Homo sapiens: one gene and its partners. The protein of the gene in region 7 purifies or fractionates together with the protein of the main gene of each other region. This does not show direct contact. Each region holds a gene or a part of one and is shown on either strand. Other genes may lie near its edges. The genes, in order: UBN2, RORB, RRBP1, MSANTD7, POLR1E, BEND3 and MYT1L.

Region 1 (3,500 bases), on a different chromosome or scaffold from region 7:
GTCCAGGTCTGTGTAGCTCTAACTCTGTTCCCTTTCCGCCACCATCGAGAATGCTATTTTAATTCCTTTGGTATAGTAGTTCTGAAACCTTCCTGCCTCCTAAGAGTTTGAGAGTGAATGTGTGTACTTCTAAGCTCATTGCGTCAGACTCAGAACCAGCATGAGACTTCTTTGAAAGTGTCCGGTTTATGCTAAATATTCATGTACATTTTATATTCAGTGCCACAATATAGTGGTGTTTGTTTGAATACAAAAACAATTTTTAATTACCTGATTAAGTTGCTTAACATTTTTCTCAAATTTTCTAGTATTACTAAATTTGTAGAAAGCCCCACTCCTCACCCCACATTTACACTATGGCTTTGAGTACTCTTGGCACTTTACTAAAACATAACCCAGTTGAGAAGCAACACCTTACCCCTCTGATTCCTCTGTGAGCATTGAAAAGTATCCCACAGGAGAAAGGATATCAGCTCACATTGGCCTTGTCATTGAGGGCCTTGTACCCTCAAGATACAACAGGGATCTTGACCCATATGTGCTGGCTCCTTGTGGTAATTAAGAAACCATTTGAAGGTAGAAGAAGTAGATGAGAATAGATTGGAATTGGAATCAGGTCCTAGGCCATACTTTGCCATCTGCTAATTGTGTCCTTTTGGTGAGGTTTTTTAGCTTTGGGCCACAGTTTTCTTTTTCTCTCTTTTTTTCTAAGACAGAGTCTCTGTCACTCAGGCTGGAGTGCAGTGGTGTGATCTTGGCTCACTGTAACCTCCACCTCCTGGGTTCAAGCAATTCTTCTGCCTCAGCCACCTGAGTAGCTGGGATTACAGGCATGCACCACCATGCCTGGCTAATTTTTGTATTTTTAGTAGAGATGGTTTCACCATGTTGGCCCGGCTGGTCTCGAACTCCTGACCTCAACTGATCTGTCCACCTTGGCCTCCCAAAGAGCTGGGATTACAGGCGTGAGCCATTGGGCCTGGCCAAGGGTACAGTTTTCCTATCTATAAATTGAGAGGTTCAGATTTTTCCGAGACCCTATTGTTCTCTATTCTGTGACTATATAATAATAAATTTAGGGATAGACTGGTGGGTGTTTAAATAGAAGGAATAGCATTGTAGTATTTAATTACAGTGTAATCTTTTGAGACTATATTGTATCATGATGTATAAATTGTAAAATCCTATAGGATGTATAAATCCTAAAATCCTAGCATGTATAAATCCTAAAATACTGTGTTTTTTATACAAGTTATACATTGGTTACACTTAATGTTTTAACCAACTAGTACACTTATGTGGCTCAAAATTCAAAAATTAAAAATCTTCCTTTTATTGTATTGCCCACCCATGGAATCCCACTTCCTAGGCAAGTAACACTCCTGTGGTACTAGAGATACATCTCTATACATACACATCTATTCCTTTCCCACCCCCTTTTTATACATATTATAGAATTGTACACACTTAAGCTCTTTGCTTTTTATTTACTGTATCTTAGTATATTTGGGGGGGTCATATCAGGACAAAGTGCTTTCTCTCCCTTTTTTTTAAGGCTGCATGCTGTTTCATTGCATGGAACTATCACACTGTAACCAGTCCCCAAATGATTTAGGTTGCTTTCAAAAATTTGCCCTTATTAATAGTGCTGCAGTAAATTAGTCTGTAAAATGGCATTTTACACAATTTCAAGTTTATCTCTAGGAGAGATTCCTAGAATCAGACGATTCAGGTCGGAAGATTTATGCATTTATAATTTTAGTATATATTACTAAATTACCAGTTCTACTCCCTCCATCACTATATTAGAGTGTCTTTTTTTTTTTTTTTTTTTTTTTGAGGCAGAGTTTCACTCTTGTTGCCCAGGCTGGAGTGCAATGGCGCTATCTCGGCTCACTGCAACCTCCACTTCCCAGGTTCCAGCAGTTCTCCTGCCTCAACCTCCCAAGTAGCTGGGACTGCAGGCATGCACCACCATGCCCAGCTAATTTTTTGTATTTAGTAGAGATAGGGTTTCACCATGTTGGTCAGGCTGGTCTCGAACTCCTGATCTTAGGTAATCCACCGCCTTGGCCTCCCAAAATGTTGGGATTACAGGCGTGAGCCACTGCGCCCAGCCTAGAGTGTCTATTTTGCTGTGGGTTACAAAATCAAGGATTTTAGAATTGCCCTTTGCAAATGGAAAAATTCCTATATATAATCCTATAAGTAAAGTGATTCAGTATATGACGCACTACCTTAAAGTTAGCATTAAGTCTTCTTAGTCAACCCTAGGATAGTATCTGGCATAGAAAGATCAGCGTTCTGAAGAAGTTGTTTGATGCGTGAAATTGAGTTTCAATTGACTTAGATATATTTAAGCCTTGTTATTTTGTTTACAGTGATAAAATATTACTCTTGTTATAGTCTAAATTAATGGGCTATATTTCTTCTCTGGATTTTTATTTTGCTGACTTACTGTCTTATTTCCATTCTAATTAGAGATTGTATGTATATTAACCAAAAAGCATGCCCAAGTGTTATATCTATGAGTATTGTGTGTGTGTGTATATGTATATATATATTTATTTGGTAGAGACAGGGTCTTGTTGTGTTGCCTAGGCTGGTCTTAAACTCATGAGCCTAAGCAATCCACCTGCCTCAGCCTCCCAAAGTGCTGAGTTTACAGATATGAGCCACTGTACCCAGCCTAAATATATATATATATATATATATATATTTTTTTTTTTAAATAATTATTTGGAATCTTTTAAGAAAATCATCAGGCCAAAAGTGACCTGAGAGAAGATACATTGTCCTGCTGGGCGTTATATGCCTAGAGCTCTAGGCTATCACAAAATCTCTCTCTTAAACTACAATGATCTTTATTGGTGTTTGGGGCAGGTGTTGCAGCAGTTGAAGATCAGTGATATCAGAAATTACAGGGAGTATAAAATTGTAAAAAGAGCACCCTGCATTGAATTTATGGGGTTCCCCCCTCCATTGTGTCCTATTTTTATGGCCATGTTCTGTTTCCTGTTATGTTGTTCTTATGCTCAGGTAATGTGACAGTTCATATTCAGCATCAATTACTAAATGGTTTTTTGGGAAAAGGTCAATATGACTATTAAGTACCTATTTTTACCTAGATTATACTAAATTGGTTGTTGTACATAAATCTTTTTAAATAGCTAAGTCCAAGTTTTGACATTTCTACAACCGTATAGGCTCCAGATTCGTCTTGATGGTTAGAAAGGAGGCAGGATACAGGTAAAAGAGGCTCCCATGCCTCTCTTTATTCCCAGTTAAGGCTCCAAAATGTTTAGGCAAAACATCTTGGTTTCCAATTCAGTTTTTAGATAGTCTGTAGGTAATATATGCCTTTTATGAGGCCACCTATACTCTATACTCAGGAGTAGGATGCTTCAATTTGATGGGTATAGACTTGTTATCTTAGCCTTCTAGGACATAGGATAACCTATAATTGTTGGAAGATTTCTCTTAGTGATTTTTTTCTCACT
Region 2 (3,500 bases), on a different chromosome or scaffold from region 7:
TTAAAGAGTAGAAAGTGTTCCTTTTACTTATGTAGGTCCCCATTCTGGAGCTTTCATTTAGGTACATTTCTACTGTGTCTCATCCAACTGGACATTTATTTTCTATGTACTTTATTCTTAAAGTCAAAATAGAACTTGGCTGTAACTCAGGCCACTATTTGTCTTCCTTTATTTGCTAAGGAATGATTCTGCGTATCTGAATCTGGAATAACCCCTAACCTATGCTCTACTCTTGCTTTCGGGCCAAAATTGGTCATTTTAATAAACTTGAGGCTACTTCCCTTTTCACTGTCCAAAAATATCAAAAACTTGGTAAAGAAAATATAGCTCTGTTAAAGTTTCTCCTGAACACTTTGGCTTAGGCAGGTGTCATCAGTGTTAAAAATAGTAAAACAAGTTTTTTAAAAAGGTAAGAGAACTGAGACTGCCCTACCTGGAGATATCAGAACAGCAGATGAGAACAAAGCGATCTCCTCCTCGGTCAGCTGCAAGGAACACAAATTCTTTGCAAAGTCAAATGCTTCATTCACTAGGTCATCAGAACCTATAAAGGAAGAAGAAAAATGGAATAAAAATACTTGAACTTGAAATGGGGCAAGAGTAAGAAAAATCTCATAATCAATAAGCTATCCAAGGAGGTGCATACTAGACTTCTAGAAAAGATATTTTTTTAAGTTTCTAATTATAAAAAGTGATTTGATACTAATCAAAGAATGAGAAAATTGGGCAACATCTTGGCCAGGCAATCCAAGTTAACATTACCTACCAATGGCAAGCAAGTAGACTTGGTGTGTGAGTGGTGTCACATCTGTCTGGCAATCCATAATATGATTACATCCTTATAAATTTGAAATGATTTCACATTAAAGAATATAAAATAAGTGATTTGGGGATCCTTTACAATAGAGATAGTATTCATAGAAAACCTAAAACATTACATACAGGGGCTGAGGATTGTCAGTCTTCGTAACACTTGAAGCTAGCAATGTAGGGTATTCTGGACTTTTAAACTGAGACGTTAGAAATATCTAATGGAACAGAGATGAGATGCACTTCAGTTTCGCAATTTCCTTGGAAATTTCACTGAGGAGCTAGAGTTTATTTATTATTACCTTCTAATGAATGACTCACAGGTCAGTTGCTTAGCTGTTGCGTATTTTGGCAAAATAATGTTGCATCTCTACACTGATCCCTGGTGAATGTTTATTTGATGAAGCTGGAAATATACTGAGGTTGCTTGCCAAGGCTTTTCCTCCTTTCTTGAAAATCTAGCCTTGGAGATGACATGGATGTGTATCAACTGTAGAAGGGAAACATTGCCAGCCCCGATGGACTTGTTGTTGGCTGCCATATCAACTAACAGCACAAGAGGTGAAAGGGCAGTGGCCTTCTTTGGTGTCCATGGGCAGGATATGGAACAAATGGCACTATCAATCGTTAAAACCTTTCCTGGCATCAGCCCATCTTTGCTAATGTTCTTCCTACCATGCCATGCACTGATGACTGGATGTGATGATATATAACACTTCCAAACAAAGACTGACTCTGTTAGTGCCTTCCCACAGGAATGGTCTGGGATCACTGTGGACAGGTTGGCATGAACTCTGTGCTCCCAGAACTTTGTGAATTAACTTCTGTGGGTGAGAAACAAGTAGAGGAGCTCCTCATTTAATTAAGTATCTTAACTCATGATGATAAATTGACATAAGAAACGCAAGAGGTCACCACCATGGATGACCAGGGGTCTATGCAATATGCAATAAAGTTGAAAAAAAAAAGCTGATTTCACAAAGAATGATCTATAATTCAGCCCAGCTCTTTTACTCTTTTAGCATCAGCCTCCGGTTATTTCTTATTTCTTTCCTTTTTTTTTTTTAACAGGGTCTCGCTTTGTCACCCAGGCTGTAGTGCAGTGGTGTGAAGATGACTCACTGTAGCCTCAATCTCCCAGGGTCAAGCAATCTTCCTGCCTCAGCCTCCCAAGTAGCTGGGACTACAGGTGTGTGTCACCATGCCCAGCTAATTTTATTTATTTATTTTATTTATTTGAGATGGAGTCTTGCTCTGTTGCCCAAGCTGGAGTGCAGTGGAACTATCTCAGCTCACTGCAACCTCCACCTCCCACATTCAAGCGATTCTCTTGCCTCAGCCTCCTGAGTAGCTGGGATTACAGGCGTCAGCCACCATGCGTGGCTAATTTTTGTATTTTTGCAAGAGACTGGCTTTCACCATGTTGGCCAGGCTGGTCTAGAACTCCTGACCTCAAGAGATCCACCTGCCTCAGCCTCCCAAAGTGCTGGGATTACAGGCATGAGCCACCACACCTGGTGATGCCCAGCTAATTTTTGTACTTTTTGTAGAGATGGGGTTTGGCCATGTTGCCCATGCTGGTCTTGAACTCTGGGGCTCAAGTGATCTGCGCCCCTTGGCCTCCCAAAGTTCTAGGATTATACGCATGAGCCACCACGCTGGGCCTCCATTTATTTCTGAATGAACGATGTCTCAATAGGGTTGTTCTCAGGAGGGTCCTCAGTTCTCTCTTTCTTTTGTATTGGAGGCCACAGTTACAAGATCAGGAGAGGCTTGCCTGAATTAGAAGCTCACCTGGTCCATCGCTTATCGAATAATGAGATACTGGTTCACATCAAAGAATCAAGGCATTTCATTTACCAATTTCAATCTAAGTGGAGAAACTGATGGTGGCTAATAAAATTGTGTCCTCATCAAAGGGAAACTTACCTAAGGCTTTGAACATTTGCATTCCTCCATATTTTCCTTCAAACAGAACAGTGTTGTTTAATGGGTTGAAGGCACGGCACATTCTCACTAAAACCACTTCCAAGCAACCTATGAGTAAAAAATAAAAATAAAAATAAAATAAAAATACACATATATATCCAATAATAAAGAAATTATTACTGCATATAGGTAAGAGACTTTCAAGAACTTTAAAACACACAGAGAGACACATACACACACACACAGGCACACACATACAGAAATCCCTTAAGTTCCTTCCCCTAAAATAACTATTAGGTTGGTGCAAAAATAATTGCAGTTTTTGCCATTGAAAGTATTGGCAAAAACCTAATATATTTGCACCAATTTAATATATTAGAAATAAAGTTTTCTTGATACTTATATGAGGAATTAAGGAGAAAATATATTTTACAGGTGGCTAAGCTGGACATTACTTTTTGAAAATACATTTTTCTCTATTTTTCCACTAATATTAAAGCTAGTTTTGATTCCTGAATTCACAATTGAGGAAATGAGGGCAGAAATTTTGTCTGCAGTGATAGGCAGCCATGATTACTGTATTCACTCTTGCATCTCCAGGACCAAGAAAAGTTTCTGGCACATAGTAGGTGCTAAGCAAATATTTATTGAATGAATTTGTTTACTACCACTGTTTTTCCCTTTGAGCATTATTAACATCCTGAGGAAATACTGCTGCATAGCTTCCCATGTTTTGGAGAAATGGGCTTTTGCCCCATAGT
Region 3 (3,500 bases), on a different chromosome or scaffold from region 7:
TTTTTAAGGTTCACTTTTTAGAATCAGATTCCACAACTGTGGTTTACATTTAGGCCTTAAAATAACCCTGTTCTAGGGGGTGGGAATGGTTGTCACCCATTCAGTGGATGAGAATGTGGAGGTCCAGCTGGTCAGAAGGTTGTCAGGCCAGTTCCTGTTGCCCAGTTGCTAGGCGATGTGGGCCCGGCCTTCCAAATGTTCCCTCCTGGCTATATACCTCCACCTTCCTGGGGCAATAATTACCCAAGGGAGGACACAGAACGTGAAGATCAAAATTAAGAGCTTCAGTGGCAGGAAGGTGGGGAGGCATTTTGAAAATCTGGCAGTGCTGAAGGTATTTTTCATTTCATTTTTTTCACCGAGGGTCTCCTGTGTGGTGGGCCTTCAAACACCGCAAGTGAGACCTAGTTCTTGCCTGAAAAAGCTACTGTCTAGAACTGTGTTGTCCAATACAGTAGCCACAAGTAGCAATTTAAGTTTAAAACAATTCAAATTAAGTAAAATTAAAAATTCAATTTCTGAGTCAAATTAGCCACATTTCAGGTGCTCAGTAGTCATAAGTTGGTCAGCGTGGCTGTAGATGGTTTCCACCATCACAGAAAGTTCTAGACAGTGCTGATGTAGAGGCAGCTGGTATTCTGTAAACATTCATGTCCCTGTTCCTCTTGATCATGTGGTAATATGTTGAACCACATGAAATTGCCCATTCTGTAGGTCAAAACCAGTTGACTAGTGGCAGTTGATACACTTCACCTGATAAGATCTCACCCTGAGAAAGCATTAGTCCCGCCTCTTTGTGTGCATTGTAAACTGCATTCCAAGAAAAAGGAGTGGGAGGGGGGCCACACAGATAGTGGCCCTTTCCTGGAGAGATTTTTTACCCAATGCCCTCAGCATCAAAATGGTGACTTGTAACAAAGACAGAAAATAAATTGATATTAGGTAGAAAGTGATGGCTTGTAAGGGAAGGTAAATATTTAATTTTAAGTGACAGTGCCTAGGCAAGGAGGCACTCTCACTTAGCATATAGAAAATTAGTTCAGGGGCCTCCTAGGAGACTTTTCTTAGGCAGACAAATTCTGGCCGAGTCTCCTGAAGCAGACAACCAGACACCCCCAAAACCAGACGTGTGTGTCCTTTATGTGCATTCAGTAACATGTGTCTTCCACCTGTCAACAATGGGCAGCAACTTTAACTTATCAAGAACATTTTGTGATTTCTAACTTAGATTTTTTTGGCAAGACTAGAATACCTGCCCAGTCCCGAAACCTTTTCAGTTCCAAAGTATTGGAGTTCCAGTGTTCTTGGGTGGCATAAATTGCTTCCTACACCAGTGACTATTTACACAGCTCTGTTATTCTCCATATAACTTTTTTTTCTTTTTCTTTTTTCTCTTTTTTTTTGAGACAAAGTTTCGCTCTTGTTGCCCAGGCTGGAGTCCAATGGCGTGATCTTGGTTTACTGCAACTTCTACCTCCCGGGTTCAAGTGATTCTTCTGCCTCAGCCTCCCAAGTAGCTGGGATTACAGGCATGCGCCACCACACCCGGCTAATTTTGTATTTTTAGTAGAGACGGGGTTTCACCATGTTAGTCAGGCTGGTCTAGAAGTCCTGACCTCAGGTGATCTGCCCTCCTCGGCCTCCCAAAGTGCTAGGATTATAGGCATGAGCCACCGTGCCCGGCCTCCATATAACTTCGAAAGGATCATTGGGCAGTACTGGGGAATAATTTTTGAATTCTTGGTTGTACTTGTGGGCTCATCTTAGTATTAGTACTCTGTAAAGAATAATATAAAACCAAAGTTTAACTTTAAAGGAAGAAGCTGAATGATGGACAGCTACTTGATCTCTTTCTGGTCAGAAAGGAGGCCCACTAAGACTACTGGAAGTTACAGACTATTTATAGTGATAATGAATATCATCTGCTGACTCAAAAGTTGGAATAAAAGACCATCTTGAATTCAAATCTTTAATTCTCTATCCTGGGCAAGGTATAAGCAAACAAGGTCTGTTAGGGTATAAGCAAACAAGGTCTGTTAGGCTGTCTTGAGAGGAATTCCAAACTGGTGCCCTGTGTGAGCTGAACTTGGCCTTCACATGGAATTTGTTTCACTGACCTCATGTTATTAAGCAATTGAGTCACCTTTTAAAAGTGGAATTTTTTTTTTTTTTTTCACTAAAATCTAGATTTTTTGGGCTGGGCACAGTGGCTAATCCCTGTAATCCCAGCACTTTGGGAGGCCAAGGCGGGTGGATCGCTTGAGCCCAGGAGTTTGAGACCAGCCTGGGCAACATGGCAAAACCCCATCTCTATAAAGAATGCAAAAACTAGCCAGGCATGGTGGCATGTGCCTGTAGTCCTGGCTACTCAGGTGGCTGAAGCAGGAGAATCATTTGAACCTGGAAGGTGGAGGTTGCAGTGAGCCAAGATCATACTACACTCCAGCCTAGGCGACAGAGTGAGACTCTGTCTCATAATAAAAAACAAAAACAAAATCTAGATTTTTGGGTTCTCTGGGGGAAAATGGGAATTTCTGGCTACACTAGGTTGACTTTCTTGTGTGGCAGCCGTGGACTGTGTTTGTCCTCTCTAAGCTGGGCCTGTGCTCTCAGTGCCCAGCATCCTACCCCAATATATGTTATGTGCTTGGGTATTGGCAGTCCCTCAGGGTGCTGGGGGCTGTCCGGTGTGACCGGACTAGTCATCAGCTTGTCCCACGGAGCTGCTGTGTGGAGCAGTGGGAGAAGCACTGGTTGGGTGTTCTGATCCCTGGAGTGAGTGAGTGACTTTGGACATGACTTCTCCTCCCTGGGCTTCAGTTTTCTCCCTCCTATAAAATGAAACTAGGCCAGCTAGCTCCACCTTTCAGGCCACAAACCTCGGTTTATCCTTAACTCCTCGCCGTCTCATACCTGTACCCTGTACGCAGCAGGTCCCATCAGCTCTACCTTCCAGACAGAGCCAGTGTGACCATTCTCACCACTTCTGCCTTCTCCCTGGTCCAAACAGCTCTTACCTTTTGATTTTTTATTTCTGAGAGGGTCTTGTTCTATCACCCAGGCTGGAGTACAGTGGCGCAATCACTGCTCACTGCAGTTACAACATTGCAGGCTCAGTTAATCCTCCTGCCTCAGCCTCCTGGGTAGCTGGTACCACAAGTGCATGCTACCACACCCAGTGAATTTTTAGGTTTTTTTGTAGAAATGGTGTCTTGCCACGTTGCCCAGGCTAGTCTTGAACTCCTGGGCTAAAGGAGTCCTCCTGCCTTGGCCACCCAAAGTGCCAGGATTGTAGGCGTGAGCCAGCATGCCCAGCCTGCTCTCACCTCTGCCCCGGGTTATTTCTCTAGCCTCTGGTGGGCTCCCTGCCTTTGCCTATACCCCCTGCCTTCTAGTCTGTTGCCAGAGCAGACCATGTCACTCCTCTGTTCAAGACCCTCCTTGGTCAAGGTCTCCAGTGGCCTCTCAGGGCACTTTCGCTCTAGCTTCACTCCTACCAT
Region 4 (3,097 bases), on a different chromosome or scaffold from region 7:
TGAATCTTTCCTTTGCTGGTCTAACTTGACTGCTTCATGGAGTTTGAAATCTTAATTTTTAAAATCCCTGTGTGGCTCATTAGACGACTATAAGCACAACCTGTATTTGTACCTTAATCTCTTACATTTCCACTGCTGTGTATCTGACATATCTACTAGTAAGCACTGTTTTGTCAAACCGTCTTTCTCTCCTTCATTTTACTGGTTCTTAGTCTCCTATCAATATAAGGAAATAAGAAGTGCCAGGGAGCCGCCATTGTGTGTTACGGTTTATATCGATAATCTTCAATATAAAATACTGGCCATTTTATAAAATATTAAATATATGTAAATTCTTTGCATTTCATATTATTTGGGTCCCTTTATATGCCTAAATTACATCTTTAAGTTTCGGTTGCCATTGGAACATTGTGGAAACAATTCAGATTATATCAGTTTCCCATCCGCTTTTTAGCTGATTTCATTCTTTTCTGTTATTTTTTTGTCTAGTATGTTATACAGGGCAAGCCCTAGAAACGTTTCCTTTTGAGGAGCTTTCCAAGATTCCTTTTCCTCAGATGTTGTAGACAGAAGTTTATGTAGTTAATGGCATCTGGTGGAAGAGAACAGCTTTGTTTCCTCTTTAACTTTGGGAACACTAGAGGATGGTGTGGATAAAGATTGCCTGCAATAGATGACTCCTTTTAAGCACTAGCCGTGAACAGATGAGCCTCCTCCACACCCCAGACACACACTGGGGAGAGATGAAGGTGATAAGCCACACTTCCGATTTACTCTAGAAGGGAAGACATTACTCTCTGTCATTAAACTAACTTAAAGCTTTTAGTGATTTACTTAGTACTTTTAGGAATACAAATAGGAATCTTTAGGATTTAAAAAGTTTTCCAATAATCTAGAAGTTGGAAAAATAACAAAGAGTGGGCATGTTGGGGGAGGTTTTATTTTCTATCTTGCAGGCTCGAGTGCTTAGCTAAATGCTGGAAATGGACATAGGTGGAGAAATGGTCAGAGCAGCAGTGGGAGCGTACCCAGAACCATGAGTAGACGGCAAGCGAGCTGCTCTGCCAAGCCAGGGATGGAGGTGTGAGGCGGCTGGTGTGGTAGAATATGTTGGAATCTAGTTAGAATTCCTGGATTGGAATCCTGTCACAGTTTGTTTCATCAGACAAATCACTTGCCCTTTTCTATTATTATTATTTTTTTTTTTTTGAGAAAAAGTCTCACTGTTTTGCCCAGGCTGGGGTGCAGTGGTGCAATCTTGGCTCACTGCAACCTCAGCCTCCCGAGTAGCCGGGATTACAGGTGCATGCCAACATGCCCAACTCATTTTTGTATTTTTAGTAGAGACGGGGTTTCACCATGTTGGCCAGGCTAGTCTTGAACTCCTGACCTCAGGTGATCCACCTGCCTCGGCCTCCCAAAGTGCTGAGATTACAGGCGTGAGCCACCGTGCCCAGCCAATTCATGCCTCAATTTCTTTATCTCCGGATTGAGGGATTTGTATTAGATTTTTTTTTTCCTAGTACCTTCCAGCTCTAAAAAAATTTGAAATAGCATAATAAAAGACAAAATGAAAACGAAATTTTAATTGTAATATTTTCTGTCACAGCAGCATATGTATATTTGAAATACTGGTAACAATTTTAAGGTAGCATTCTGTGGTATTAATATTTATTAATATGCTCATGAACTTCTAAGTGCCACACCAGACATATAGACTCTTTACTTTAAAAGAGCATATATTTAAGGCATTGAAATGGATACAGCTATATTCATTCTCAATTGTCTTAGGCTATTATATGGAAAGATATGTGTCAATTATAGGTAGGTAGGTAGGTAGGTAGATTTTCTGGAAACACAGAAGTACTTGACGGAGAGTTAGGCCTGTATTCTATAAATCTATTAATGGTAGCAAAGTGCATAAGACAGGGATTTCTTTGAGATGAAAGGAGTGCTGAAGAAGAGCATTGGAATTAATATTTGGATGTGGTATTGTGAAATTCAATGGGTAAAGTAACCCTAATGTGGGAATAAAAGTCAAGGGAAAGGTCTTGAATAAGTACACAGAAAAATAGGCTAAAAATATTAAGGGGAGGGAAATTGGAATACAGGGAGACAGTGTGCAAGAAAGCAAGCCAGGAATCTGCCTATGTGGTAGACCCAACCATTACTACTTGAACCCCCTTAGAAAAGCTTTTCCAGCATTCCATAACTCAGGTTCCTCATTTATAAAGTGGGAAACTCATAATTGTCCTACCTACCTCACAGGGGTGTTGTGAGGATCAAAGGAACAGATGAATGTATGAGCACTTTCAGACATGTAAGGCACTGTCATGTAACAAGTAGGGGAAAGACTCTGGAGCACATTAGTGCTGGTGTGTGCCAAGCCCGTGGGCTGTTGACCGTAAGGGATATTCAAGTAGGAGGAGGAAGAGAAGATGGCATTGCTAATAAAGGTTGTGATACACAACCATAGGATTAACTGCCTCCTCAAGTCCATCATGTAAATAAGGTGCTATGTATACCAACTTCTCACCACCTTTGTTTTTCTGTTCGGTAATCCTGGTGTGGACAAATAAAGTTTTCACTTGTATGTAGTTGTGGGTCAGTCCACTACTTTGTGATGATGTCTGTGGTCCTTTGTTGCCTCCATTCTCTGCTTTGCTTTCTCCTCTGCTAAGGGTCTTGCATGTCTGCAGCCCTCGGAGCTATATGTGCTTTCTGTCTTCAGAGGAGAGCGGCCCTCTTTATAAAGCAGTTGAGAAATAATTTTCCATTTCTTAAGAGTTCTGTAAATTCTGTAAAATATCCTTCCTGGCAAATTCTCTTGTCTGGGTGGTAGACAACCTACGCACAACAGTATAAATTGTTCTGGTTGACTTAAATTCTAAAGAAAACAGAACTAGTAAGTGTCATGCTGAAATTCTAATATTGGTGCAAAACCCGCTATGAGCACACTTTATCTATTTTTCCTATTCTTAAAGTGTTTGGGATATAGTTAATATTAAATACTGAGTTTAGGAAAAGGAAGAAGCAAAGAGTTTAATGGAAAGAATACTAAACTTTGTATTGAAGTTCTGAATGCCAGCCAGTTATG
Region 5 (3,500 bases), on a different chromosome or scaffold from region 7:
ACGTTCCTGAAAGCTTCAGATGGGCTCTGAAGAGCTTCATACTCCGCAGGGGAAAGAACTAGTTACAGGTCAAGAATATAATCCAACCAAAATAGAAACATCCAACTAGCTAGGTCATCTCATAGCAGTGGCATTTCACAGACAGGGAAACAGGCTCAGAGAGCCAAAGATCACACAGGGCAGATCACATAGGGGCAGAGCTTGGTGACTCAGTTCTCCGACTCCCAGCCCAGAGCCCATTCCCTGCCCAGGCTTTTCTGCTTTTTCTCATCACAAAGCCACTGCAGGCATTTTCCTTCTGACCGGACCCCTTGGGTGGTGAAATTCTAAGCTCCAACCCTTCCTTCAACAAAAGTGGTCTGCCCTAGACTTTGGGCATTTGGCTGGTTCAACTCTTATTTTGACTCTCCATGGAGAGTGAGCCCCACAGGTCTAAGCTGTGGGCATTTGGCATTTTGCTGAGGAATGGATTTGAATCCCAGGGGCCGGTCCCTCAGCTAGTGAGGAAGCCAAGTTAACCTCCTGGCAAGAGCACTGAGCAACTGCAAAGGTTTGGATGGAGCTCTTGTGAATGTCACAGAACACAGACACCCTCAGAGAACCTGACTGCACACACGTGCAAACATCTCAACTTGTGAAATAAGGCAGCTTTTCTACTGCAAGAAGGATACGATCTTCAAATTTATACACGTCTTCAGGCTTGGCTGCATCATCATAGCAGGGAGGAAGGTAGAGGGAGTCATCTTGCAAGTCATTGTGGATAGCATCGCTGACCAGAGCTTTTCAATAAAGAAACAATCCATGTATCACCCTGTTTGTTTCCAGTTCCCCAACATTCTTTTCAGTCTGTGCACTTCAGACCACCAATGGTCCAGAAACCCCAAGTCTAAATGCTTCTGCCAAAGTGACCTCGCCTCCCCATCAGGCTGACTGCTTCAGGACTGCCATGTTCACTCATGAACAAACACAAGCTAGGCACTGGAGAAGGTGGAGGTGACAAGATTCCCCTCAGGTAACTTACAATAGAGTTGGGATTGACAGCTGTGCTAATACATAAACATTTACAATATAAAATGAGAGAAACTAAAAGTGAGGGACGTCCAAAATAGCCTTTAATGGCTTAACTTCTAGAAAAACTTGCCACACATTGTAGGTGGAACAAAACTTTCAGAATATAACACTGTAACTGCCCCACAAGAATAACTCCGCAGCCAGGTGTGGTGGCTCACACCTGTAACCTCAACATTTTGGAAGGCCAAGGCGGGAGGATGGCTTGAGCCCAGAAGTTTGAGACCAGCCCAGGCAACATGGCAAGACCCTGTCTCTCCAAAAAACTAAAAAAATTAGCTGAGCATGGTGGCACACATCTGTGATCCCAGCCACTTGGGAGGCTGAAGTAGGAGGATCACTTGAGCCCAGGAGGTTATGGCTGCAGTGAGCCATGTCTGCACCACTGCACTCTAGTCTGGGTGATAGAGCAAGACCCCATCTCCAATCAATCAATAAATAAATTTGTGAAAGTGTTGAAATCTATATAATCATAGGGTATGGAAAGATTTTCCAAAAATTACTAGAATTTCATTCTTAATAGAAAAACTGCTCTGCCCAGGGCACAGTGGTGTGCGCCTATAATCCTAGCTACCTGGGAGGCTGAGGCGGGAGGACTGCTTGAAGCCAAGGGTTCAAGATCAGCCTGGGCAACATAGCAAGACCTCATCTCCAAAATCGGTAAAAAGAAAAGCTACTCTTACACAAACTTGCTCTTATGTTCTTATAATGTATTTGAACAATAAATACATTTTAAAATAATACAATTAAATACTCCAGCTGCTGAATACCGGAAACAGAGCCACTGATCCCAAAGTGAAATGCCACCTCTGGAGGCTCATTTCCATCAACACATCAGCCTTTTTGACCAAAGCTTCCCTGCAACGCACAAGGAGAGACCTGAGGCCTTCTCCCTCCTCTGTGCCCTGCAGGCCATAACCCCAGCACCATAAGCACGGCAGGCATGTATCCATTCCATGCCTGTCCCTGTACTTGACTGTGGATCACTAGAAGACAAAGCCATGTCGGATGTTTCTTACTACTTCCAGAACCTGTCCGTGAGAAGGCCTTCAGCAAGAGGCTGAAAGGAATCCAGCCCTAGCTCCCAGCATTCCATGTGTGGGTGGGTAAAAGATCTCAAGAGAAGAGAAAGCTGTCATTATGGGCAGACTCTTAGCCCAAGTTCCAACTTCTTACCAGTCACACCCTTCGTATCAATGATAGTCTCTGCAGCTTTAGCCACTGCACGATTCAAAGATTCATTGCCAACTCTGTTCATTCTCCTGGTGTTCAGAGCTCGCTTCTGTTTGGTGGTACCAAAGGCTTCAATACAAGAATCCATCTGTTTATGAGATAAACCTGGTTACTGGGGACAGGACAGGTAGGTGCTGCCCCTCCTAGCTGTGTCACTATGGGGATACTCTCAGCATCCCAGAGTGATCACTACCTCACCTGTGAATAAGGCTGAATCGCACCTATTTACCTCACAGGACTGCTGTAAGCACCAAATGATATTAACAGATTGATCAATCAACAGCATCTCCATCAGTAAGATATAAAGACTTGACTAGGATTAGGGCTGGCAAATCTGTAGCACATGGCTTACCATTCTCCCATCCTATGCCCGTAACAGACAGGAATAGTAGAATGGTAATTCTCCCATCTTACACCCGTAACAGACAGGGCTAATAGATCACTGACTCCTTCCCCCTGAAGCAAAAAGTAGCCTCACAACCCTTCTCAATACAGTGCTCCACACAGCACCAAAGATTCAATCAGTTTGTCATCTTGGGGTGAGATGACCTTTGTAGGGACCTTCTACATTGAAAATCCCCAAGTTTACTTTGTTTTAACGTGAATGTTTTCAGGCTACAACCAATATATTCTAAAACTTGGACTAAATCCTAAAAACAAGCATTATGCTACACTTGTATCAGCCCAGAGAACCGACTCCAAACATTGGCACAGAGCTGTGTTCAGCTGCCCCAGATGGGAGCCAGACTGTTCTCTGTGGGACCAAGGAGGCTTCTGCAGGTACAAACTAATTGTCCAGAGAAACAGACTGAATGAGCGGGGAGCAGCCAGGGAGACCCTTGAGTTCAACAAGCTCATTTCACTGATGGAGAAACCCGAGGTGTAGAAGGAACTTGCTTAAGGTCCCACATCTTAATTCTATCACACTCACCTTTTCTCTGTAAGTTTTGGTCTGACTCTCTAGCGCCAGTTCACTCTCAACTGATACATCTATCAAAACACACAAAAACAGAGAGAAAGAAAAGTCAATTGGGAGGCCTACAAATAGTAATAGTGTTTAATATTCATTTGTCTATCTAAGAATAATAGATTTCTTTACTATAGGACTTCCCTGAGCCTAACATGAGTGTATACTGTGAATATTTAATATGCAGCTTTAGTATACAGTTAAAGAACTTGGAAAATAAATTAGCCAAATC
Region 6 (3,994 bases), on a different chromosome or scaffold from region 7:
CTGACTTCACTAAACCAGTAATCCAAATACAGCTCGAGAATGTTCCACGTAGTTCCTCAAACTTAACCCTGTGCCTTTTGATTTCAAGCCCGAAGGGGGGGAACTTGCATAATTACTAAATTCCCAATTGGAGTGGTCTGAAGGAGGGTACGGTAAACCCAAACTATACGTTAATTCAAACCCTCGCCGCGACTGGGCAGCAAGGAGCCAACATATGCCTTCTTTTAAAAATCTATTCTACCTATTCACTGACCGCGCAGGGCCGTGCCACATGGTCCTCCCTTGCAGCCAGTCAGCTGTGAGCAGCAGATGGGATCATTTGCATTTTTCTTTTTATACTTTCTTTGATCGGCAAATTAAAGGATTTTTCTTAAATTTACATTCTCATTGTTTGCCTAAAATACAAACGTGGCTAAACTGTTGAATTGGGCTTCCCTGACTCTCACCCAGCACCTCCCCCTCCCCCTACCCAGCCACTGAGACTTGAGAAAATACCCGAGGGGTAGATTTCGTATTTATCAACTGGGAATCTACAGTCCAAGAGTTAGGAGTAGACAGAATCAGCCTTTATTGAGTTGGTGACTCGTGTTTTTCTATTTTAGGCGCTCGGCGCAGACAGCCCGTGGGTTTGTGTTTGTGGGGTGTGTGTCTGTGAGCGCGGGCGCTTCCGAAGCTCTCGCTCCGCAGCCTCACACCCCAGAACTTCGGGTTGCAAGAGCAGATTTTAGCTCTGAGGCTCACAACAGAGGGCGGCCACCGTGCAGGGGGAGTGGCCAGAGCCAGCTTTTCCCAGCGCCAGGGTCGCTCTCCCGGGTCCCGCCGGACTCCATGCCGCCCCGCGGGGCCGCAGGAGCCACCCGGGCCCTCGCGCCCCAAGGTCTTTGTGCCGGTGGCGGCGCGGGAAGACCGGCCCCGGGGGCCTGGGCTGCGGCCCAAAGGCCAAAAATGCGGGAGAGGCGTGGGCGCGAGGCGGGACAAGCTCCGCACAGTCGCCGTCCCGCAAGGGGCAAAAAAGTAGAAAAAGCCGTTTGGGGCCAAACTCTCGGGTCTGAGAAACCACGTTTCCGAGGACGAACTCGCGGTGGGAGGACACATGGGGTACAGGGGACATTGTTCGCGGCGCCTGCCCGGCGCGCCGTGGGTGCGCGGCCGCCGCCCCCGCCCCGGGCAGCCAGCGCGGGCCCACGTGGAGCCACTGCGCTGGCCGAGCGCGCCGGGCCGCCTGGGTCCCGGGAGTGCGCGCCCGAGCTCCCCGCCGCGGCCGTTCACGCCCGAGCGCCGCCGCCGCCGGTCCCGCGTGTGCCCCGCTGAGGGGGAGGGGCGGGCCGGGGGTGGGGGCGGAGGGGTTGTGGTTCCACTGCAGCGGGGGCTCCTGTGTCCTTGTGCGGAAATGACACACGGAGTCCCGTCACGTCACGCGAGAGCGCAGCGCACGGACACACACAAAGAGAGGGGAAAATACACGGCGCTCGCCCGCCCGCCGCCCCCAGCGCCTCCCCGGGCCGCCCTGGCCAGGCCCTCCGCGCGCGGCCCCCACTCCCCGGCCCCGCGCCCTCCCCCCCACGTGGCGCCCAAACTCGGCGCGGGCCCGCCCGGCAAAGTACAGAACTCGCGTCCCAGGTAAGTGCGGGGCGGATCAAGCCGGCCGCGCGGCGGCGGCAGCGTTGGCGGCTCCGGGGCGAGCGGCCGGTAGAGTGGCTGCAACATCCATGCCGGGGTGGGGGCGGGAGCAGGGGAGGGGACGCGGAGGGGGGCTGCTCCGAGCGCGCCCGCCGGTAGTAGCGCCCACCCCCGCGCGGGCCGAGCGACCGGAGCGGGCGCCGGGCGCCCACGGGCTCGCCGCGCCCATTGTGCTGCGCGCCCCTTTGTGCCCGCTCGGAACGCGGCGGCTCCATGGCGTTCTGGGGAGCACGCGCGCCGCGCGGGGGCGGGGGGTTCGCGCGGTGGAACCGTCCGCGCCGCCGCCGCCGCCCGCCCCACTCGCGCCGCGCGCCGGCCCCGCACCCCCGCCGGGCGCCGCGATGGAGCGGCCGGGGCGGCCGGAAGGCTCTGCCGTACTCGCGGCGGCTTGGCGCTCGCGCTCGGCGGGGCTTTGGCGGGGCACTGCTCGGCGTGTGGAAGGGGGTGTCGGAGCGGGAGCAGGGGGCGGGGACTGGAGGGAGATGCCGGGCGGCGAGCGGGAGGCCGGGGGAGCAGCCGCTCGGAGGAACGAAGCCTCCGGAGGCTGCAAATGGAGCGAGGCCGGCCCGCGGCGGCGGCGGCCGGGAGCGGAGAGGGATGGGCCCCGCCGCCAGGGGGCGCAGCGCTCCCTTCCCGGCCGTTCCACGGCGGTTCGCGGTTCCCGCTGCCCAGGAGCTGGAGGCGGGCCCGGCGCCTTGGGTGTGCACCCGGGCTGGCGCGAGGCCTGGCCGGCCGGCCGCAAAGCTGAAGCCTGGGGCGCTCGCCGCTCCTCGTGAGCGCTCCTTTCCTTCTCTATGATAAACGTGATTTCCCACGCATGCTTTGCCCTTGCCTCATCCGTGAGCTGTGCACCACCGATTTGGAGGCCCTTGTGTGCTTGTTTACCTACGTCTCCCTATGTAGCTATTTTAAACAAGGTGTTTTTACAGAGATAAAAGTTTTATTGATTGCTCAGGTGGTCTTTCTGGAAGAATTCTGCACGTAAACGCTAACTCGACAAGAGTGCCGGGAGGAACAAGGTTACTCACTAGAGTTGGAAATGTGCAGTTCATCTCCTTAAAGTAACTTTTGAATGGTTGAATACAAATAGTAAACATGCCACAGGGCAGCGTGGCATAGTGCCAGAAAGCTACGGTTGCAGGAAACTGAGGTAAGGAACTGAGTCCTTCAGGTAGCCAGGTATATAAACGGCTGGGATGGAGGACTTTCTCTTGTTACCCGCTCCCCACTTCCACCCTTGCAGTCCGTTTTTCTCTCTTTTTTTTTTAAACCATTCATCCCTAGATATTGGCTTTATACTACCATACAAGAGCCTGTCAAGCTTTCCTCGGTACTGGGACTTGGGCAAGATTTTTTATCTCCCTCACAGTTTCACATCCCCAGCCTCTAACCCGGTGTCTCATAACTTAGTAGGCGTTCAGTGCGTATTTCCTAAATGAATGGAGAGAGCCTCTTGGATTCTAGAGGAAAGATGGAGCCAGAGCGCCAGTTGCTGCTGCTGGGTTAGCTGGTGTCTGTGTGGCCCTTGAAATCTGTCACATCAACCTCCTGTCATGGAACATGAGTTTTTTTTTTGTTTTTTTTTTTTTTTTGAGACGGAGTCTCGCTCTGTCACCCGGGCTGGAGTGCAGTGGCTTGATCTCTGCTCACTGCAACGTCTGCCTCCCGGGTTCAAGCGATTTTCCTGCCTCAGCCTCACGGAGTAGCTGGGATTACAGTCCATGTGCCACCATGCCTTGCTAATGTTTGTATTTGTAGTAGAGACGGAGTTTCACCATGTTGCCCAGGCTGGTTTCCGGACCTCAGGTGATCTGCCTGCCTGGCCTCCCAAAGTGTTGGGATCACAGGCATGAGCCACCGTGCTTTTTTTTTTTAGACAGAGTCTCGCTCTATCACCAGGCTGTAGTGCAGTGGCGTGATCTCTTCTCGCTGCAACTTCCGCCTCCCAGGTTCAAGGGATTTTCCTGCCACAGCCTCCCGAGTAGCTGGGACTACAGGCGCGTGCCACCACTCCCGGCTAATTTTTTGTATTTTTAATAGAGACGGGCTTTCACCGTGTTAGCCAGGATGGTCTCAATCTCCTGACCTCATGATCCGCTCACCTTGGCCTCCCAAAATGTTGGGATTACAGGCGTGAGCCACCGCGCCCAGCCTTTCTTTTTTTTTTTTTTTTCTTGAGACAGAGTTTTGCTCTTGTTGCCCAGGCTGGATTGCAATGGTCTGATCTTGGCTCACCGCAACCTCTGCCTCCTGGGTTCAAGTGATTCTCCTGCCTCAGCCTCCCAAGTAACTGGGATTATAGGCGCGCGCCACC
Region 7 (3,500 bases):
AACCCATGCCGTGTAGTACAAAAATAAATCAAACTTCAGTTCCACAGAGAGCACAATAAATAGTTTATACAAAATTCTGTCTTAATAAATGATTACTTAAATTAACTTAGAAATGAATATGAACAATAAGTTATAATAAACTCTGATGACTCACAATAATCCATATGAAAGGTCAGCATTCTAATATGTGACACTTTTGTGATCCCTATATAATAGTCACAGATAACTTTTGATTTGAGATTATGTACCAACGTTAGATGAGCAGCAGGTTTGTGCTTAAAATCCCTTTCCATTGTACATAGGTGATAACAATAAGAATCCAAAACTGATACTATCTAGTACTCTACTAAAAGCATTACTATATTGGCAAAGAAGCTGCAGACACAACGCGGTGGGGAAATGCATATGCTGTTATGAACAATGGGGGCCCTAAAGGCAGCTGGGGCCCTGGGCCACACGGACGGCCTCAGGTGACTGCAAGCACCTTGCTTCAGCTCTCAAAACGCATTCTGAGCATGGCAGCTGCAACCAATAGCACAACAGAAAGGGGGCGCTGTACAGAGAAGGTTCCGCAGAGCCCCGAAATAATTACATCGTCTTTTCCCAGCTAGTTATTAAAGTCCTTGTGGAAAACTGTAAGCTTTTGTACAGTGAACAGTATAAAGTGCCGCTGGGATATACATATATTTATACACATATATATATACCGAGGTTGAGTATTGTATCAGAATATTCGTCGTGAGATCCCTGTAGTCTCCCTTTGCAACATTATTGATCAGCCGTGAGGGCTCCTCTATAATCCATCCAGGTTCAGTGTCACAAGGCTACTGACACGAGGAATTGCACACCTCCGTACGGATATATAGGACAAGGTAAGTGCAAATAGTCGACTGGCACATTGTGGGGACAATGACCCTGTAAGTCCTGTTCTGCTAAAAATATTTTTTTTTTATTTTTACAAAACCCATCTTTTTTTTATTTCATAACAAAAATTTAAAGTACGTCTGTACTTCCTGCATAACATCAAGACATGGAAGGAAGAGATGCTACTAAATGGAACTCAAGTCAACATCAGAAAACACAACACGTCGTCAAAGGACTACTCAGAAGGGGGAACACAGCGCTCAAAAGTGGTCTTATGCATACATATAGTGCAGTCATTGGGAGTAAAACAATCAAATCTGGAAGGTATAAACAAGTCTAAGATGATCTAGTTTAAAGCAAAAAAGTGCTGAAGTATATTTAGTTACTTTTAAAATCTGATTGCATTCATTCTTAGAATAGTCACAAGAAATCAAACAATGAGGCTCTGCAAATGCTCTATGGTCAACTGGTCTCCACCCAAGTGTAGAACAGAAACGTCGTGGTAAGAGTCCTCTGAATAGGACCAAATGCTGATTCAGAGTCAAAGTCGGGCGGGGGGAGCAGGAGGGAAACTTTACCGAGCTGCCTTCCCACCAGATCCAGCAGAAAACTCGGTCCAGTAACTAGAAGACTCACAAATCATTTGCCTTTATCCCTCAAATGTAAAATAAGAAGGTTCATAACAATAATAGGAATAATCATAATTTTTTAAAGTGAAAAGGGGAAATAAATGTTCTTAAATTATCTTTTAGCTTAAATCGAAAACACACAAATTCTGTTGATAAACTACATTGCAATAACAGACAGTTCAGAGGGGCACGAAACTCTAGGGGAGATACGAGAAGGTTGTTCCAAAGTTTATTGAAAATGGAAAAGGAAATCTTCACGTTGTCCACCTCTGATAAGATCCTGTCTTAACTGGAGTTTCCATAGTCACAACCATGTAACGCTTAGGAGTTAATTTAAAAGTGCTGTTTAAGCTGCTTTGAATCTTCTGCCAAGTTTCCATGGCTTGATGTTGTCTTACAATAAATTACTTATTTCATTTCTTACAGTTAATCCATATGCCATTTCCTTGGAATGCAAAAAACCTCATTTATTGCCCCCACCATACACCATCCTCCTAAAACAAACAAACAAAAAAGTCACATAATATTTCCAAGCATTGTTCAAAAATAAAGCATTTTTGCAACGAATTCTTGCTATGAAACAATATGCACACAAAATGTATTTCTTAAATTCCATAAAGTCCTCCAACATGAGGCAAAATGATAACGTCTAAAAAGCGGCTGCTCAGCCACAACATGATCATTCAAAGCTGTGGGTCTGTGTGTGCGTGTGTGTGTTTGTGTGTCCATTTCAGTTCAAAATACTAAAACATTTAATCACTAAAGCATTAAAAAGAATTTACACTCTATTTATTTTGATCAGCTTACCTCTTCAGAAATAGATATACCCCCAAATGTGCATACATCAGCAGCTATAAACATTACATGGCAGAACACTATGTCAGCTTACATGGAAACGTACAAAATGTGGGTGTATTCAAAAACTATTCTGCAGGTACTATCTTTAAAGCAAGACATAAAATCATTATGAAGTCTTGTAAGCATAACACTGTTTCAAATTCAAACAGAAATAAATATAGAACACTTTCTGGTAAGTTACAGCAGCAAAAAACAAGAGGCATCCTTTTTAAGCAAGAGTTTCATCACTACAGCAGCTGTTCAGACCTGAATTCCTCTCACAGCCTGCTTTATATTTTCCAGTAGGGCTTTATTTTCTGGACTCTGATAACGATCTTGATTTGTATACATTTCCGTCAAAGTAGTCACGTAAGCATCAAAATTTTGTTCATTGATTGGATCCTACGAGATATTAAATAGTAGTTCATATACAACTTTTATTTTCTTAATAGTATATTTACAAAAGCATAAAATAGTATCATAGCATAGTGCCCCTGGTTTTATACTATTTCAAAGGCCGGCTCAGAGCACACTTAAGTTTCTGGGGTCAGCCCCGCCCATGTTTCTAGCAGTTAATGGTATGGTTTCGGGGTGGTAACCACAAACATTTGCCAAAGGCTGAAGAACCATGAAAATAACGATAAAAACGGCATCTACTTTAGGCTGTGCGCTGTGGAGGACTCCACATTCCTGCCTTGCGTGCTCAGTCACTTACCATGTGCGGCAGCTGGATGTTAGCCAGGCTGTGGATCAGAGACTGGCTCAGGTTCGCCAGCTCGTGGAGGAGAGACTCGTTCTGCTGCTCAATCACTTTGTTCTCCTCTTCGATGGTCTTCAGGTTGCTCTCCATCGTGGTAATCTGAAACGCACAAGTGTGCGTGACATGTAACACCAGGAGGACCTAGGAGCGCGTGGTCGTTGCCGGGGGCCACAGTCTACTGGGTGCGAAGAAGGGGCCTCTCGCTGAAGGAGAAAGGCTTCGGGCCGGGCGCCGTGGCTCACGCCTGGAATCCCAGCATTTTGGGAGGCCAAGACAGGCAGGTCACTTGAGGTCAGGAATTCAAGACCAGCCTGGCCAACGTGGTTAAACCCTGTCTCTACTAAAAATACAAAAATTAGCTGGGCGTGGTGGCGTGCGCCTGTAATCCCAGCTACTCGGGAGACTGAGAC

Evidence for each region.
Region 1: the proteins of MYT1L (region 7) and UBN2 purify together in Homo sapiens (affinity purification with mass spectrometry, with the first as the bait; one large-scale study listed by BioGRID). This does not show direct contact.
Region 2: the proteins of MYT1L (region 7) and RORB purify together in Homo sapiens (affinity purification with mass spectrometry, with the first as the bait; one large-scale study listed by BioGRID). This does not show direct contact.
Region 3: the proteins of MYT1L (region 7) and RRBP1 purify together in Homo sapiens (affinity purification with mass spectrometry, with the first as the bait; one large-scale study listed by BioGRID). This does not show direct contact.
Region 4: the proteins of MYT1L (region 7) and MSANTD7 purify together in Homo sapiens (affinity purification with mass spectrometry, with the first as the bait; one large-scale study listed by BioGRID). This does not show direct contact.
Region 5: the proteins of MYT1L (region 7) and POLR1E purify together in Homo sapiens (affinity purification with mass spectrometry, with the first as the bait; one large-scale study listed by BioGRID). This does not show direct contact.
Region 6: the proteins of MYT1L (region 7) and BEND3 purify together in Homo sapiens (affinity purification with mass spectrometry, with the first as the bait; one large-scale study listed by BioGRID). This does not show direct contact.

Annotation. Positions count from the first base shown.
Region 1 is NC_000007.14:139,237,737-139,241,236, forward strand, and holds part of UBN2 (ubinuclein-2), read left to right. Parts: intron 1-3,500.
Region 2 is NC_000009.12:74,664,835-74,668,334, reverse strand, and holds part of RORB (nuclear receptor ROR-beta), read right to left. Parts: intron 2,848-3,500; coding exon 2,740-2,847; intron 545-2,739; coding exon 434-544; intron 1-433. UniProt on the Homo sapiens protein: Nuclear receptor that binds DNA as a monomer to ROR response elements (RORE) containing a single core motif half-site 5'-AGGTCA-3' preceded by a short A-T-rich sequence.
Region 3 is NC_000020.11:17,675,743-17,679,242, reverse strand, and holds part of RRBP1 (ribosome-binding protein 1), read left to right. Parts: intron 1-3,500. UniProt on the Homo sapiens protein: Acts as a ribosome receptor and mediates interaction between the ribosome and the endoplasmic reticulum membrane.
Region 4 is NC_000010.11:14,844,403-14,847,499, forward strand, and holds the end of MSANTD7 (zinc finger and SCAN domain containing 29), read left to right. Parts: 3' UTR 1-2,597; downstream 2,598-3,097.
Region 5 is NC_000009.12:37,492,448-37,495,947, reverse strand, and holds part of POLR1E (DNA-directed RNA polymerase I subunit RPA49), read right to left. Parts: intron 3,292-3,500; coding exon 3,233-3,291; intron 2,390-3,232; coding exon 2,245-2,389; intron 780-2,244; coding exon 672-779; intron 59-671; coding exon 1-58. UniProt on the Homo sapiens protein: Component of RNA polymerase I (Pol I), a DNA-dependent RNA polymerase which synthesizes ribosomal RNA precursors using the four ribonucleoside triphosphates as substrates.
Region 6 is NC_000006.12:107,112,716-107,116,709, reverse strand, and holds the start of BEND3 (BEN domain-containing protein 3), read left to right. Parts: upstream 1-1,194; 5' UTR 1,195-1,620; intron 1,621-2,277; exon of another isoform or gene 2,278-2,830; intron 2,831-3,994. UniProt on the Homo sapiens protein: Transcriptional repressor which associates with the NoRC (nucleolar remodeling complex) complex and plays a key role in repressing rDNA transcription.
Region 7 is NC_000002.12:1,789,276-1,792,775, forward strand, and holds part of MYT1L (myelin transcription factor 1-like protein), read right to left. Parts: intron 3,190-3,500; coding exon 3,046-3,189; coding exon of another isoform or gene 3,034-3,045; exon of another isoform or gene 2,733-3,033; coding exon 2,592-2,732; 3' UTR 1,988-2,591; coding exon of another isoform or gene 1,961-1,987; 3' UTR 1-1,960. UniProt on the Homo sapiens protein: Transcription factor that plays a key role in neuronal differentiation by specifically repressing expression of non-neuronal genes during neuron differentiation.